Regions from separate parts of the Homo sapiens genome. Here region 1 is linked to region 2. The links come from fine-mapping of genetic effects on gene expression. A gene starts in region 2. The other region holds a variant in brackets. All regions are shown on one strand. Distances are between the middles of the regions. Region 1 has its middle 14 kb from the start of LGALS7. Region 2 holds the start of LGALS4 (galectin 4).

Evidence for each region. PIP is the estimated chance that this variant, and not a neighbour inherited with it, causes the effect.
Region 1: its variant is fine-mapped to the expression of LGALS4 in lung (TOPMed, PIP above 0.99).

Annotation. Positions count from the first base shown.
Region 1 is chr19:38,755,123-38,763,714 of GRCh38, reverse strand. No RefSeq gene overlaps it. Among named protein-coding and RNA genes, the nearest start is that of LGALS7, 14 kb to the left of the region's middle. The variant C/T (reference allele first, on the strand shown) is at 4,018.
Region 2 is chr19:38,808,249-38,816,840 of GRCh38, reverse strand. LGALS4 (galectin 4) reads left to right here and starts at 3,896. Exons shown (of 10, transcript NM_006149.4): 1 at 3,896-3,999; 2 at 4,322-4,410; 3 at 7,893-8,097. The coding sequence starts at 3,955. ECH1 (enoyl-CoA hydratase 1) reads left to right here. Exons shown (of 10, transcript NM_001398.3): 7 at 318-388; 8 at 486-557; 9 at 834-984; 10 at 1,124-1,419. The coding sequence ends at 1,228. RefSeq lists a silencer at 886-1,086.

The DNA of each region.
Region 1 (8,592 bases), 53 kb after region 2:
CAGGCTGGAGTGCAGTGGCGTGATCTCTGCTCACTGCAAGCTCCGCCTCCTGGGTTCACGCCATTCTCCTGCCTCAGCCTCCAGAGTAGCTGGGACTACAGGCACCCACCACCACGCCCGGCTAATTTTTTTGTATGTTTAGTAGAGACGGGGTTTCACCGTGTTAGCCAGGCTGGTCTCTTAACTCCTGACCTTGTGATCCACCTGCCTCGGCCTCCCAAAGTGCTGAGATTACAGACGTGAGCCACTGCGCCTGGCCTTTTTTTTTTTTTTCCTTTAAAAAAGACGGAGTCTCTCTCTGTCACCCAGGCTGGAGTGCAATGGCACAATCTCAGCTCACTGCAACCTCTGCCTCCTGAGTTCAAGCAATTCTCCTGCCTCAGCCTCCTGAGTGCTGGGATTACAGGTGCCTGCCACCATGCCCAGCTAATTTTTGTAGTTTTAGTAGAGATGGGATTTCACCATGTTGGTCAGGCTGGTCTCGAACTCCTGACCTCAGGTGATCTGCCCACCTCGGCCTCCCAAAGTGCTGGCATTACAAGCATGAGCCACTGCGCCTGGCTTCTTCTTCTTCTTTTTTTTTTTTTTTGAGACAGATTCTCACTTTGTTTCCCAAGCTGGAGTGCAGTGGTGCGATCACAGTTCACTGTGGTTTCAACCTCCTGGGCTCACCCTCCTAAGTAGCTGGGACTACAGGCACATGCCACCACACCCAGTTAATTTCTGTATTTTTTGGAGAGACATGGTCTCGCCATGTTGCCCAGGCTGGTCTGGAATTCCTGGGCTCAAGCCATCCACCCACCTTGACCTCCCAAAGTGAATAGTGAGTCTTAAAGTCACATTATATGCCTTGCAACTTTGTTCTCCTTTCTCAAAATTGTTTTGTTTATTCTATGTCATTTTCATTTTTCAATACATTTCAATGGATACTTGTACAAAAATTGTATCTGTGTTTCTATTTTGTTCTTGAGTCAGTTTTGGTAATTTGTGTCTCTCTAGGGATTTGTTCATTTCATTTAAATTGCCTAATTAGTTGACCTAAATCTGTTCATAATATTCCCCTGTGATTTTTTAAAATTTGTGTACCATGTTAGTGTTTTTCCCTCCTTCATTCTTGCTTTTGGTAATTGAGGGCTTCTGTCTTTTTTATTTTTCTTACTCTTTTGTTGAACTTTTTAATGAGCTAACTGATTTCATTGAAAACCAGTATACTAGTTTGTTTGTTTGTTTGTTTGTTTTTGAGACAGAGTTTCACTCTGTCGCCAAAGGCTGGAGTGCAGTGGTGTGATCTCGGCTCACATCAACCTCCACCTCCGGATTCAAGCGATTCTCCTGCCTCAGCCTCCTGAGTAGCTGGGATTACAGGTGCCCACCACCATGCCCCACCAATTTTTGTATTTTTAGTAGGGACGGGGTTTCACCATGTTGGCCAGGCTGGTCTTGAATTCTTGATCTCAGGTGATCCACCTGCCTCGGCCTTCCAAAGTGCTGGGATTACAGGTGGGAACCACTGCACCCGGCCCAGTTTTGCTGATCTTTTCTTTTTTTGAGACAAGAGTCTCACTCTGTCACCCAGGCTGGAGTACAGTGGCATGATCTCGACTCACTGCAACCTCGGCCTCTTGGGTTCAAGTGATTCTCCTGTCTCAGCCTCCAGCTGGGATTACAGGTGTGTGCCACCATGCCCAGTTAATTTTTGTATTGTTAGTAGAGACAGGGTTTCTCCATGTCGACCGGGCTGGTCTCGAACGCCTGACCTCAAGTGATCTACCCACCTTGGCCTCTCAAACTGCTGGGATTACAGGTGTGAGCCACCACACCTGGCCTGTTAATCTTTTCAATACCGGTTTTGTTGATGTTTTCAATGAGCCAATTTCAGTTTCATTGCTTTTTCTCTATTGTTTTTATATTTCTGTTTCATTGCTGTCCATTTAGATCTTTATTACTTCCTTCTTACTATTTTCTTTGAGTTTGATTTACTCTTCTTTTTCTAGCTTTGGAGGTGGAAGCCTAAATTATTGATTTTAGGCCTTCTTTCCATTCTAATGTGTTGGGGTTTTTAAAATTTTCACCAGGCTGACTCAACACTAATATGTTTTTTAAGCTATAAGTTTCCCGCTAATTACTACATTGCCAGCATCCTGTACATTTTTATTTCCTGTGTTTTTGTTTTTATTCAGCTCAAGGTATTTTCTAAATTCATTTTTGATTTTTTTTTTTTTTTTTTTTAGATGGAGTCTCACTCTGTCACCCAGGCTGGAGTACAGTGGCGTGATCTCAGCTCACCACAACCTCCACCTCCCAGGTTCAAGCAATCCTCCTGCCTCAGCCTATCAAGTAGCTGGGACTACAGGCATGAGCCACCACGCCCAGCTAATGTTTGTATTTTTTAGTAGAGACACGGTTTCACCGTGTTGGCCAGGCTGGTCTCGAACTCCTGATCTAAGGTGATCCACTGGCCTTGGCCTCCCTTGGCTGGGATTATAGGCATGAGCCACCACACCTAGCCAGATTCCTTCTTTGACACATAGGTCATCTACAAGTATGTTGTTTAGTTTTCTTATATTTAGAGATTTTCTAAATTTCATTTTATTGTTGGCTTTTAGCTTAGTTCCATTATAGTTAGAAGTAATACTTTTTAAATTATTTTTTATTTTTACTATTATTATTTTCTAATAGAGATGGGGGTCTCATTATGTTGCCCAGGATGGCCTCAAACTCCTGGGCTCACGAGATCCACCTGTCTTATCTCACATAATAATTTCTTTCCCTCCCACCCTCCCTCCCTCCCTCCCTCCCTCCCTCCCTTCCTTCCTTCTTTCTTTCTTTCTTCTTCTTCTTTTTTTTTTGAGATGGAGTCTCTCTCATCCAGGCTGGAGTGCACTGATGCAATCAGCTCACTGCAACCTCTGCCTCCTGGGTTCAAGTGATTCTCCTGCCTCAGCCTCCAAGTAGTTGGGACTAAAGGCAGGTGCCACCACACCTGGCTAATTTTTGTATTTTCAGTAGAGATGGGGTTTTGCCATGTTAACTGGGCTGGTCTGAAACTCCAGACCTCAGGTGGTCCACCTGCCTAAGCCTCCTAACATGCTAGGATTACAGGCGTGAGCCACTGTGCCCGGCCCAATCCTATGTCTCTCTCTTTTTTTGTGTGTGTTTTTTTTTTTAGATGGAGTCTCTCTCTATTGCCCAGGCTGGTGTGCAGTGGTGTGATCTCAGCTCACTGCAACCTGGTTCAAGTGATTCTCCTGCCTCAGCCTCCCGAGTAGCTGGGACTACAGGTGCCTGCCACCACACCCAGCTAATTTGTATTTTTAGTAGAGTTGGGGATTCACCATATTGGCCAGGCTGGTCTCAAACTCCTGATCTTGTGATCTGCCCGTCTTGGCCTCCCAAAGTATTGGGATTACAGGTGTGAGCCACTGCATAGCTGGCCTCTCCTTATCTTAAAAAAAAAAAAAAAAAGAGGAGATTGAGGCAAGGCGAAGTTTTAAATTTTTAAATAATAATAACAATAATAATTATTATTATTATTATTTTGAGACAAGATCTCGATCTGTTGCCCAGGTTGGAGAACAGTGGTGCAATCTCGGCTCACTGCAACCCCCGCTTCCCGTCCTCAAGCCATCCTCCCACCTCAGCCTCCTGAGTAGCTGGGAATACAGTCGCACACCACCATGCCCAGCTAATTTTTGTATCTTTTCTAGAGACAGAGTTTCACCATATTGCCCAGGCCGATCTCAAACTCCTGGACTCTAGGGGTCTGCCTGGGTCAGCCTCCCAAAGTGCTTGGATTACAGGTGTGAGCCACCATGCCCAGCCAAGGGGAAGTTTTCAAAGGCAAAATGAGGAGGATTACATAAAGTGTTTTGAATCAATTATCCTTGGCTACGAGACTTGAAACAAGGGTGGCATCAGTCCAAGGTTGGACAGGCAGTTACTGGACAAAAGTACTTTCTGTGTAACGTTGCAGTGGACTTTGTGCGAGGTTGTGGTTTTTGGAGAGTCTTCCGCAAT[C/T]GTTCCTATCAGGCATTTGTGCATGAGCACGCTCCTTTCATGACCTTCCCGGTTCCTTTTTTTTTTTTTTTTTGAGACGGAGTTTCACTCTTGTGGTCCAGGCGCTGGAGTGCAATGGTGCGATCTTTGCCTCTTGGATTCAAGTGATTCTCCTGCCTCAGCCTCCTGAGTATCTGGGATTATAGGTGCCCACCACCAGTCCCGGCTAATTTTTTGCATTTTTAATAGAGACAGGGTTTCACCATGTTGGCCAGGCTGGTCTCCAACTCCAGACCTCAGGTGATCCACCCACCTCGGCCTCCCAAAGTGCTGGGATTACAGGTGTGAGCCACCACACCTGGCCCAGTCTCTGGTTTTCTATATGGTCATCTATACGGTCTTAAGTTCTAAGAAATGCATGGTTAGGCAATTTCGTCAGGGTGTGAACATCATAGAGTGACTTATGCAAACGTAGATGGTACAGCCTACCCCACACCTAGGCTATATAAAGTAACCTACAGCTCATAGGCTACAAGCATGCACAGCATTTAACTGTACTGAACACAGTGGGCAATTGTAACACAATGGTAAGTATTTGTGTATATAAACATATCTGAACATAAAAAAGGTACAGTAAAACTATGGTATAAAAGATGGAAAATGGGCCAGGAGCAGTAGTTCATGCCTGTAATCCTAGCACTTTGGGAAGCTGAGGTGGGCAGATCACTTGAGGTCAGGAGTTCGAAACCAGCCTGGCCAACATGGTGAAACCTCGTCTCTGCTAAAAATACAAAGAAGTTTAGGCCAGGCACGGTGGCTCACGCATGTAATCCCAGCACTTTGGGAGCTGAGGTGGGCGGATCACGAGGTCAGGAGTTTGAGACCAGCAGGACCAGCATGGTGAAACCCCATCTCTACTAAAAACACAAAAATTAGCCAGGCATGGTGGCACGTGCCTGTAATCCCAGCTGCTTGGGAGGCTGAGGCAGGAGAATCGCTTGAACCCGGGAGGCGGGGGTTGCAGTGAGCCAAGATCATGCCACTGCACTCCAACCTGGACAACAGATAGAGACTCTGGCTGAAAAAAAAAAAAAATACAAAGAAGTTAGCCAGGTGTGGTGGTGCACGCCTGTAATCCCAGCTATTTGGGAGGTTGAGGCAGGAGGATCACTTGAACCTGGGAGATGGAGGTTGCAGTGAGCGGAGATCATGCCACTGCACTCCAGCCTGGGTGAGAGAGTGAGACTCCATCTCAGAAAAATAAATAAAAGATGACAAATGGTACGCCTGTATGGGACACTTACCAGGAATGGAGCTTGCAGGACCGGAAGTTGCTCCAGGTGTGAGTGAGTGAGTGGTGAGTGAATGTGAAGGCTAGGACAGCACTGTACACTCCTGTAGACTTTATAAGCACTGTACTCTTAGGCTACCCTAAATTTAAAAAAATAAAGTAATTGTGCTACAGCATTGTGATGGCTGCAGCATCACTAGGTGATAGGAGTCCGGCTTCGTTGTAATTTTATGGGACATTGTCGCATGTGCAGTCCATCACTGACTGAAACGTGGTGATGCAGCACCCGACTGTGTATGTCACCTAGTCAGGGATACAGGCCAGGTGTGGTGGCTCACGCCTGGAATCCCAGCATTTTGGGAGGCCGAGGTGGGATGATTGCTAGAGGCCAGGAGTTTGAGACCAGCCTGGGCAACATAGTGAGACCCTGTCTCTACAAAAAAAAAAAAAAATCAAAAATTATCCAGGTGTGGTGGTGTATACCTGTGGTCCCAGCTACTAGGGAGGATGAGGCAGGGGGATTGCTTGAGACTGGGAGTCTGAGGTTACAATGGGTTATGATCATGCCACTGCACTCCAACCTGAGTGACAGAGCAAGATCATGTCTCTAAAAAAATACAGTGCTATATAACTGGGTTTTTTTTTTTTTTTTTTTTTGAGATGGAGTCTCAGTCTGCCACCCAGGCTGGAGTGCAGTGGCGCGATCTTGGCTCACTGCAACCTCTGCTTCCTGGGTTAAAGTGATTCTCCTGCCTCAGCCTCCCAAGTAGCTGGGATTACAGGCACCCGCCACCATGCCCGGCTAATTTTTGTATTTTTAGTAGAGATGGGGTTTCCATGTTGGCCAGGCTGGTCTTGAACTGACCTCAGGTGATCCCCCCCACCTCAGCCTCCCAAGGTGCTGGGATTACAGGCGTGAGCCACTGTGCCTCGCGTTTTTTTGTTGTTGTTGTTTTTGAGACAGAGTCTCGCTCTGGAGCGCAATGGCATGATCTCAGCTCACTGCAACCTCCACCTTTCAGGTTCAAGCCATTCTGCTGTCTCAGCCTCCTGAGTAGCTGGGACTAAACGCGTGCACCATCACACCCAGCTAATTTTTTGTATTTTATTTATTTATTTTTATTTATTTGAGATGGAGTCTTGCTCTGTCGCCCAGGCTGGAGTGCAATGGCGTGATCTTGGCTCACTGCAACCTCCACCACCTGGGTTCAAGCCATTCTCCTGCCTCAGCCTCCTGAGTACCTCGGACTACAGGCAGCCACCATCATGCCTGGTTAAGTTTGTATTTTTGTAGAGACAGGGTTTCACCATGTTGACCATGCTGGTCTCATATTCCTGACCTCACATGATCCACCGCCTCGGCCTCCCAAAGTGCTGGGATTACAGGCGTAAGCAACCATGCCCGGCCTTATAACCTTTCCTTTATTTATTTATTTATTTATTTATTTATTTATTTAGATGGAGTTTCGCTCTTGTAGCCCAGGCTGGAGTGCAATGGCATGATCTTGGCTCACCGCAACCTCTGCCTCCCAGGTTCAAGCGATTATCCTGCCTCAGTCTCCCGAGTGGCTGGGATTACAGGTGCCTGCCACCATTCCCAGCTAATTTTTATATTTTTAGTAGAGACAGGGTCTTGCCATGTTGGCCAGGCTGGTCTTTAACTCCTGACCTCGGATGATCCACTGTCCTTGGCCTCCCAAAGTGCTGGGATTACAGGCATGAGCCACTGTGCCTGGCATAACCTTTACTTTAAACAATTTTATATATATATATTTTTTACAATTTTATTTATTTGTCTGTCTATTTATTTTGAGACAGAGTCTTGCTCTGTCACACAGGCCAGAGTGCAGTGGCACAATCACAGCTCACTGCAGCTCCGACCTCCCAGGCTCCAGCAATACACCCACCTCAGCCTCCTGAACAGCTGGGACTGGACTATAGGTTTGCACCACCATGCCTGGCTAATTTTTGTATTTTGGGTAGAGATGGGGTTTCACCATGTTGCCCAGGCTGGTCTTGAATTCCTGAGCTCAAGCAATCCACCCACCTTGGCCTCAAAGTGCTGGGATTACAGGTTTGAGCCACCATACCCGGCCTTATATGGTTTTTTTCTTTTTTTTTTTTTTTTTTTGAGATGGAGTCTTGCTCTGTCGCCCAGCCTGGAGTGCAGTGGTGCAATCTCAGCTCACTGCAAGCTCCGCCTCCCAGGTTCACGCCATTCTCCTGCCTCAGCCTTCCGAGTAGCTGGGACTACAGGCACCCGCCACCACACCCGGCTAATTTTTTTTGTATTTTTAGTAGAGACGGGGTTTCACCACATTAGCCAGGATGGTCTCGATCTCTTGACCTCATGATCTGCCTGCCTCGGCCTCCCAAAGTGCTGGGATTATAGGCGTGGGCCACCGTGCCCAGCCTGACCTTATGTTTTAAAATAAATTAAAAGAAGAAAAGAAAAATACATTTCTGGGGCTCTTCATTTCTTCCTGTGGATTTGAGTTTCTGTCTACTGTCATTTTCAGTGTGAGGGGTTTCCTTGAGTATTCCCTGCGTTTAGGTATATGCTAGTCAGGAATTCTCTTTTTGTTTATCTGGGAATGATTTTCTTTTGCCTTTTGTTTTGAAGTATAGTTTTGTTGAATATAGAATTATCAGTTGACAGTTTTATTTTTCTTTCAGTGTTTTGAATAAATCATTCATCTGCCTTCTGGCCTCCATTGTTCCTAGGAGAATCTAGCCATTAATTCTATTGTTCCCCTGTACATAATGAGCTGTTTTTCACTTGCTCCTTTAAAATTTTCCATTTTCCTGGCACGGTGGCTCACGCCTGTAATCCCAGCACTTTGGGAGGCCAAGGAGGGTGGATCACGAGGTCAGGAGATCGAGAACATCCTGGCTAACACGGTGAAACCCCGTCTCTACTAAAAATACAGAAAATTAGCCAGGCGTGGTGGTGGGTGCCTGTAGTCCCAGCTACTCGGGAGGCTGAGGCAGGAGAATGGTGTGAACCCGGGAGATGGAGCTTATAGTGAGCCGAGATTGTGCCACTGCACTCCAGCCTGGGCGACAGAGTGAGACTCTGCCTCAAAAAAAAAAAAAAATGCCCTTTTTGAATTGTTTTCAGCAGTTTTACTTTCACTCGCGTCCGTGTGAAGAGACCACCAAACAGGCTTTGTGTAAGCAATAAAACTGTTTATTTCACCTGGGTGCAGGCGGGCTGAGTCTGAAAAGAGTCAGCGAAGGGAGATAAGGGCGGGGCTGTTTTTATAGGATTTGGGTAGATAAAGGAAAATTATAGTCAAAGGGGG
Region 2 (8,592 bases):
TGAGGGTGGGAGGCAGGATGGAGCCGGGGGATGCAGTAAAGGGGTCTCAGGTAGGGTGAGGAGGGTTCCTCTCTCACAGATGGAGCTGCCCTGAGGGAATGGGAGGGTGCATGAGTGGGAAGGTGGGCTCTATTCTAGGTTGAAGGAACTTGCCTGAGTCAAGAAGCTGCCTGGGCAATGGAATGGGACTTTGGAGGAAGTCACTGGGGTGAAGGTGGGGCGGGACTCTCCAGTAGACATGAAATTTCATGGACGTTGACATTGCGAGGGGCACAGTATTGGGCAGAAACCAAACACTGACCCGATTCCTCCCCCAGGAGGTGGACGTGGGTTTGGCTGCCGATGTAGGAACACTGCAGCGCCTGCCCAAGGTCATCGGGAACCAGAGGTGGGTGCAGGGGGTGTGGGGGTGTGGGCAGGAGACCCCAGAGCATCTCCCAGCCCCGGGGTGGCAGCCGCCTCCTGATGCACGCTTGCCTTTGCAGCCTGGTCAACGAGCTGGCCTTCACCGCCCGCAAGATGATGGCTGACGAGGCCCTGGGCAGTGGGCTGGTCAGGTAGGGCCATGGCCGTGGTAGCTCAGTGCTGGGGGCAGCCAGGCCTGGAGGGTTGGAGGCCTCTCCGGGTCCCCTTGTCTCCTCGCTCTAGAATTCCTAGTGGCATCCTTTCTTGGTGAGCTCATTTCTTTATTGTGGGGTCAGCCCCCTGCTCTGATTGGGCTGTTTCTCTGGGGTCTTGGGCCTTCCTCTGTGAGTGGCCACTTCTTCATCTGCGGGAGGCTGGAGGAGAGAGCCCTTCCCAGCCCACCCGGTCCCTGATCTCTTTCACTGCAGCCGGGTGTTCCCAGACAAAGAGGTCATGCTGGATGCTGCCTTAGCGCTGGCGGCCGAGATTTCCAGCAAGAGCCCCGTGGCGGTGCAGAGCACCAAGGTCAACCTGCTGTATTCCCGCGACCATTCGGTGGCCGAGAGCCTCAACTACGTGGTAAGGTGCACGCTCCGACCAATCACAGCCCTCCTCTAACCCCAGGCGACCAACCAGGGTGCAGGGTGCTCTCATGCTTTATCCTGATTGGCCCCTGCTAATCTCTCTCCTCGTTCTCTCTCAACACCCTCGGTACCAGGCGTCCTGGAACATGAGCATGCTGCAGACCCAAGACCTCGTGAAGTCGGTCCAGGCCACGACTGAGAACAAGGAACTGAAAACCGTCACCTTCTCCAAGCTCTGAGAGCCCTCGCGTCCCAGGCCCCAGCCAGGGGGCCGGCCTTGTCCCGCCTCATCCACAGAAAGGGAGGATGGGCGATGACAGTTGTTTCTATGCCTTCTGACCCAGTTTCCCAGTTTATAACTTTATGACAATGAGTTTCTCAAGCCCAAGGCCTTATCTTCACCCCACAAACAATAAAGCAAAGTAAAGAACCTGGTGCCCTTCTTGGATAGAGGAGAGGTGGGAGGGGCTGGGATGCACCTAGGGGCTCCAGAGACTGCAGTCCTGAAGGCTGGGGCTAGAGGTTGGATGCATGGGAATGGGTGGCATGGAGGTGATGGCCATTCAGACTGGCAGCGGGCAGGCGAGGGGCACAAGGAATTCCGGGGCGGAGGGAGTGAGCAAAAGTCGCTGGGGTCCCTCTGGGTTGCAAGGCTTCCTGGTCTCCCTGCCTGCCCTGGGGTTGAGGGTGGCGTTCGTGCCCTGCCTGGCACCTCTCACTGCACAGCACATGGGATCTGATGCTGGCGTCTCACACCTGTAATCCCAGCACTTTTGGAGGCTGACGCAGGTGGATTGCCTGAGCTCAGGAGTTTGCAACCAGCCTAGTCAACATGTTGAAACCCAGTCTCTACTAAAAATACAAAAATTAGCTAGGTGTGGTGGCAGGTGCCTCTAGTCCCAGCTACTCGGGAGGCTGAGGCAGGAGAATCCTTGAACCCAGGAGGTGAGTTTGCAGTGAGCTGAGATCATGCTGCTGCAGTCCAGCCTGGGTGACAGAGTGAGACTCTGTCTCAAAAAAAGAAAAAACAAAACAAAAAAGGACTTTGGGGTTTCTGGCCGGGTGCAGTGGCTCATGCCTGTAATTCCAGCACTTTGGGAGGTTGAGGCAGGTGGATCACTTGAGGTCAGGAGTTTGAGACCAGCCTGGCCAACATGGCAAAACCTGGTCTCTACTAAAAATACAAAAATTAGCCAGGCGTGGAGTAAGCCTGTAATCCCAGCTATTCAGAAGGCTGAGGCAGGAGAATCCCTTGAACCTGGGAGGTGGAGGTTGCAGTGAGCTGAGATGGTGCCACTGCACTGCAGCCTGGGTGATAGAGCAAGACTCTGTCTCAAAAATGAGCAAACAAAACTTTGGGATTTTTTATCCATATATCATCCCAATCTTCCGGATTTATGTTTGGAATGACTGCAAGAGACCAAGCATTAAGTTAATGACTTCTATATGCTATGTCCTGTTCTGAGCATTTATTATCTTAATGATCAAGGACTCTATGAAGTTGATACTATTATGATTATTATTATTATGACTATTATTGTTGCTATTTTTAGAGACGGACTCTTAGTCTGTCACCCAGGCTGGAGTGCAGTGGCATGATCATAGCTCACTGTAACCTTAACTCCTGGGTTCAAGCGATCCTCCTGCCTCAGCCTCTGAGTAGCTAGGAATACAGATGTGTGCTACCATGCCCAGCTAATTTTTATTTTATTTTTGTAGAGATGGGGGTCTCACTATGTTGCCCAGGCTGGTCTTGAACTCCTGGGCTCAAGCAGTCCTCCTGCTTCAGCTTCCCAAATTGCTGGGATTGTAGGCACAAGCCACCACACCCAGCCTAAGGTTGATACTACTCTTTTCTTTATTTATTTATTTTTCTGAGTGGCAGTTGGACCCACAGCTAGAACTTATTTGGCAGATTAATAACATACAGGCATTACTGGATCACAAATTCATTTTTAAAATATTTTGATAGCTATTCAATACTTGTTTCCTCTCTTATGAATTCCTTTTTTTTTTTTTTTTTTTTTGAAACAGAGTCTCCATCTGTCATCCAAGCTGGAGTGCAGTGGCGTGACCTTGGCTCACTGCACTCTCCTCCACTCAGGTTCAAGTGATTCTCCTGCCTCAGCCTCCAAGTAGATGGGATTATAGGCACCCACCACCATGCCTGGCTAATTTTTGTATTTTTAGTAGAGACTGGGATTTTGCCAGGCTGGTCTCGAACTCCTGCCCTCAGGTGATCCATCCACCTCGGCCAGTCAAAGTGCTGGGATTACAGGCATGAGCCACTGCACCCAGCCGATACTACTATATCCCCATTTTACAGATGAGCACATGGGCAAATTGAGGGTAAGGCACTGACCCATGATCATACAGCTGAGAAGTGGCAAAGGCAGGATTTGAACCTAGAACCTCTGGCTCCACACACTAGTAATCTAAACCACTCTCCCTACAATACAACATACGTGGTAAAGATGTGTGGTGGGCACGCAATCAACGTAGGTCCCTTCACAGTTGCTGGGAGAGGCAGGAATTTGCAGTTCCTCCGCGTTCTCCTCCTCCGCTGCCCACCTGTCCTGGGTCATTCCTGCAGCCTGCCCTGCCCTGCCTGGTCTCACCCTCCCTCTGCCAACAGAAGTCTGGGCAGGGTTTTATGGGCTCTGATAAGGCCCTGGCAGGGCCGAAGTTCATGAGCACTTCCTCTTTGCAGGAGGGCGTAGGGGAGGGGACCCAGGTGATTTGGGTCCTGGCTGGTCACCAGGGAAGCTGGCAAGGGAAGGGAGACTAGGGTGCGCTCTAGGAGAAGCCGACAGCCTGAGAGTCCCAGAAGAGGAGCCCTGTGGACCCTCCCCTGCCAGCCACTCCCTTACCCTGGGTATAAGAGCCACCACCGCCTGCCATCCGCCACCATCTCCCACTCCTGCAGCTCTTCTCACAGGACCAGCCACTAGCGCAGCCTCGAGCGATGGCCTATGTCCCCGCACCGGGCTACCAGCCCACCTACAACCCGGTGAGATGCCAGCTCAGGCCCCACTCCGCCCGCAGCTCCGTCCATAAGCCCTCACACCAATTTTCCCCACTCTGATCCTGGGGGGCCCCATCTGACTCTGTGGTCTGATTTACCCAAAGCTGACCCCGACCCTCGATTTACTCCTACCCTGACCTCAGGCTGTCTGTGTCCACGTCTAACTGTTGGCCCTCGTCATCTTCAACCTGGTCCTCCCCCATGGTTTCCTCTCTCCTGCTTAAGGGACTGGGGGGCTTTTCTGGGAGGGGTAAAGGCTGCAACAGGCAGATGGCTTGTGAGTCCCCTCACCAGGCCTCTTCTCCAGACGCTGCCTTACTACCAGCCCATCCCGGGCGGGCTCAACGTGGGAATGTCTGTTTACATCCAAGGAGTGGCCAGCGAGCACATGAAGCGGTAAGACCCTCCCCAAGCCAGGCCGGGCTGGCAGGGGACTTCCAACTGGGTGCTCTGGGCCTGGCTGTTGGGGGCTTTCTGCCCTTACCCCACCCTGGTGGAGAGGGGACTCTTTTTCTGCCCCACCCAATAGCCAGAGATGAATCTGGGGCAGATCAGGAGTGGGGACGTGGGGGCCAGAAGGTTCAGGGAGGGCTCACCGTGAGAGGCAGTCCCTGAGTTGGACATTAGACTGAAGCTGATGGGTGCAATGGCAGGAATTCAGATCACAGGCTCAGAGCCGGGTCCCCGAGTTAAAATCCCAGCTCTGCCACTCCCCAGCTCTGTGTTGGTGAAAGAGTGAAAGTGACTATACCTCTCTGTGCTTCATTTTCTTTTCTTTTCTGTTTTTGTTTTTTTTGTTTTTTTTTTTGTTTTGAGATGGAGTTTTGCTCTTGTCGCCCAGGCTGGAGTGCAATGGCATGATCTTGGCTCACTGCAACCTCTGTCTCCCAGGTTCAAGCGATTCTCCTGCCTCAGCCTCTTGAGTAGCTGGGATTACAGGCATGTGCCAGCACACTGGCTAATTTTTGTATTTTTAGTAGAGATGGGGTTTCACCATGTTGGTCAGGCTGGTCTCGAACTCCTGACCTCAAGTGATCCTCCCATCTCGGCCTCCCAAAGTGCTGGGATTACAGGCGTGAGCCACTGCGCCTGGCCCAGTCTTAGCTTTTTAAAAAGGGCCTTAACACGTTGATAATGATTGGCCTCATAGGACTTTTTTTTTCCTTAGAGATAGGGTCTTGCTCTGTTGCCCAAGCTGGAGTGCAGTGGCACAATATTATAGCTCACTTCGGCCTCCAACTCCTGGGCTAAAGTGATCCTCCTACCTCATCTTTCCAAGCAGATGGGACTACAGACATGTGCCACCATGCCCAACTAATTTAATTTTTAATTTTTATTTATTATTATTATTTGTTTTGTAGAGACAAAGTCTTGTTATGTTGCCCAGGCTGGTCTTGAACTCCTGTGCTCAAGCGATCCTCTAGCCTCGGCCTCCTAAAGTGCTGGGAGGATCAGGCACTGGTATGAGCCACTCTGCCCAGCCTGTTGTTTATTTATTTATTGTTTACTTCTTCACTGAGTGCCTATTCTGTGTCCTGGCACTAGGGATGGAGGAGTGAACAGGACAGAGACCCCTGCCCTCGTGGAGCTGATGTCCTAGTAGGGGAAACATAAAAAATAAGTCCAGGCCGGGCGCGGTAGCTCAGGCCTGTAATCCCAGCACTTTAGGAGGCCTAGGCAGGCAGATCACCTGAGATCGGGAGTTCAAGACCAGCCTGACCAAAATGGAGAAACCCTGTCTCTACTAAAAATACAAAATTACCAGGGCGTGGTGGCGCATGCCTGTAATCCCAGCTACTCAGGAGGCTGAGGCAGGAGAATCACTTGAACCTGGGAAGTGGAGGTTTCGGTGAGCCGAGATCGTGCCATTGCACTACAGCCTGGGCAACAAGAGTGAGACTCTGTCTCAAAAAAAAAAAAAAAAAAAGTCAAATATGTAAGATGTCAGATGATATTAAGTGCTATGAAGAAAATGAGGAGGGAAGGGAGATGGGGAGTGTATGTGCGGACAGAGGTTCCCTTTAAATTGTCCCCTTAAATAGGGTGGCCTGGCCGGGCATGGTGGCTTACGCCTGTAATCCCAGCACTTTGGGTGGCTAAGCCAGGCAGATCACCTGAGGTCAGGAGCTCGAGACTAGCCTGGCCAAAATGGCAAAATCGCATCTGGCTGGGCGTGGTGGCTCACGTCTGTAATCCCAGCACTTTGGGAGGCAGAGACGGGCGGATCACGAGGTCAGGAGATCGAGACCATCCTGGCTAACACAGTGAAACCCCGTCTCTACTAAAAATACAAAAAATTAGCTGGGCATGGTGGCGGGTGCCTGTAGTCCCAGCTACTCGGGAGGCTGAGGCAGGAGAATGGCGTGAAACCAGGAGGCGGAGCTTGCAGTGAGCCAAGATTGCGCCACTGCACTCCAGCCTGGGCGAAAGAGCGAGACTCCATCTCAAAAAAAAAAAAAAAAAAAAAAAAAAGGCGAAATCTCATCTCTGCTGAAAATACAAAATTAGCCAGGCATGGTGACAGGTGCCTGTAATCCCAGCTACTTGAGAGCCTGATGTGGGAGAATCACTTGAATCCTGAAGGCAGAGTTTGCAGTGAGCTGAGATCGCATCACTGCACTCCAGCCTAGGTGACAAAGGGAGACTGTCTCAAAAAAATTAAAAAGGTGGCCAGAGAAGGCCTGCCTGGGAAGGGAACATATCAGCAAAGAACAGAAGGAACGGAGAGAGGGATCCCCAGGGACAGCTGAGGGAAGGGCCTTCCAGGCAGAGGGAACAGCCAGTGCAAAGGCCCTGAGACAGGCCTGTCCTGGGGAGTAATTTCAAGGATGCTGGTGTGCCCAGGGGTGCGGAATATGATGCGTCATGGGTGTACACAGGGACCCTCTGGCTGCATGAGGGAAATGATCTTCAGGGCCAGGAGGGGAGCAGGGAGACCCAAAGTGCATAGGACAGGGCCTGGCCCGTGGCAGACTTGTAACAGTCATAACTGGAAGTTGGGAAGAGGGTGGAGGAGGTGGTCTAAGAAGGCAAGGTGGGCTGGGTACAGCAACTCACACCTGTAATCCCAGCACTCTGAGAGGCCGAGGTGGTAGGATTGCTTGAGCCCGGGAGTTTGAGACCAGCCTCGGCAACATAGTGAGACCCCATCTCTACAAAAAAAAAAAAAAAAAAAAAAAAAAGCCAGGCATAGTGGCATGCACCTGTAGTCCCAGCTACTAGGGAGGCTGAGGCAGGAGAATCAGTTGACCCAGGAGGTTGAGGCTGCAGTGAGCCACCATCGTGGCCACTGTACTCCAGCCTGGGGGACAGGGTGAGAACACAAGACCCTGTCTCAAGAAAAAAAATGTCAGGCACGGTGTCTCACACCTGTAATCCCAGCACTTTGGGAAGCCGAGGCAGGTGGATCACCTGAGGTCAGGAGTTTGAGATCAGCCTGGCCAACATGGTGAAACCCTGTCTCTACTAAAAATACAAAAATTAGCCGGACGTGGTGGTGCACGCCTGTAATCCCAGCTACTTGGGAGGCTGAGGCAGGAGAATCACTGGAATCCAGGAGGCGGAGGTTGCAGTGAGCTGAGATCGCGGCACTCCAACTCCAGCCTGGGCAACAGAGCAAGACTCCATCTCAAAAAAAAAAAAAAAAAAAAAAAGAAGGAAAGGCTGTGAGCGAAGGTGTGGTGGTGGGAATCTGCCCCCCTCAGAACTCAGGTCCTCTCCACGCTGTGGCCCACAGTGCCAAGGTTGCCCCTCAGAGCTGGTGCTGAGGTCCGGGCCAGGGAGGCCGAGGACAGGGCGGCAGGGAGAGGGCTTCCTGGAGGAGGCCCCCAGGCCCCGGGAGGTGGCACCAGGGGAATGAGCCCTTTGTGTCCCGCCAGGTTCTTCGTGAACTTTGTGGTTGGGCAGGATCCGGGCTCAGACGTCGCCTTCCACTTCAATCCGCGGTTTGACGGCTGGGACAAGGTGGTCTTCAACACGTTGCAGGGCGGGAAGTGGGGCAGCGAGGAGAGGAAGAGGAGCATGCCCTTCAAAAAGGGTGCCGCCTTTGAGCTGGTCTTCATAGTCCTGGCTGAGCACTACAAGGTCTGCATGCTTTCTCTCTTGTTTCCCAAGCTGGAGTGCAGTGGCGCCATCTTGGCTGCTTCCTTCCTTCCCGCCTTCCTTCCTTTTCTTTCTTTCTTTCTTTTTTTTTTTTTTTTTTTTGAGATGGAGTTTCACTCTGTTGCCCAGGCTGGAGTGCAGTGGCATGATCTCAGCTTACTGCAACCTCTGCCTGCTGGGTTCAAGAGCTTCTCCTGCCTCAGCCTCCCGAGTAGCTGGGATTATAGGCGCGTGCCACCACGCTCAGCTAATTTCTGTATTTTGAGTAGAGATGGGGTTTCACCATGTTGCCCAGGCTGGCCTCGAACTCCCGACCTCAGGTGTTCTGCCCTCCTTGGCCTCCCAAAGTGCTGGAATTACAGGCGTGAGCCACCACACCCAGCCCCTTCCTTCTTTTTCCTCTTTTTCCTTCCTCTTTCTCTGTTCTCTCCTCTTTCCTCCCCTCCTTCCTTCCCCCTTCCCTCCTCTCTTCTTCCT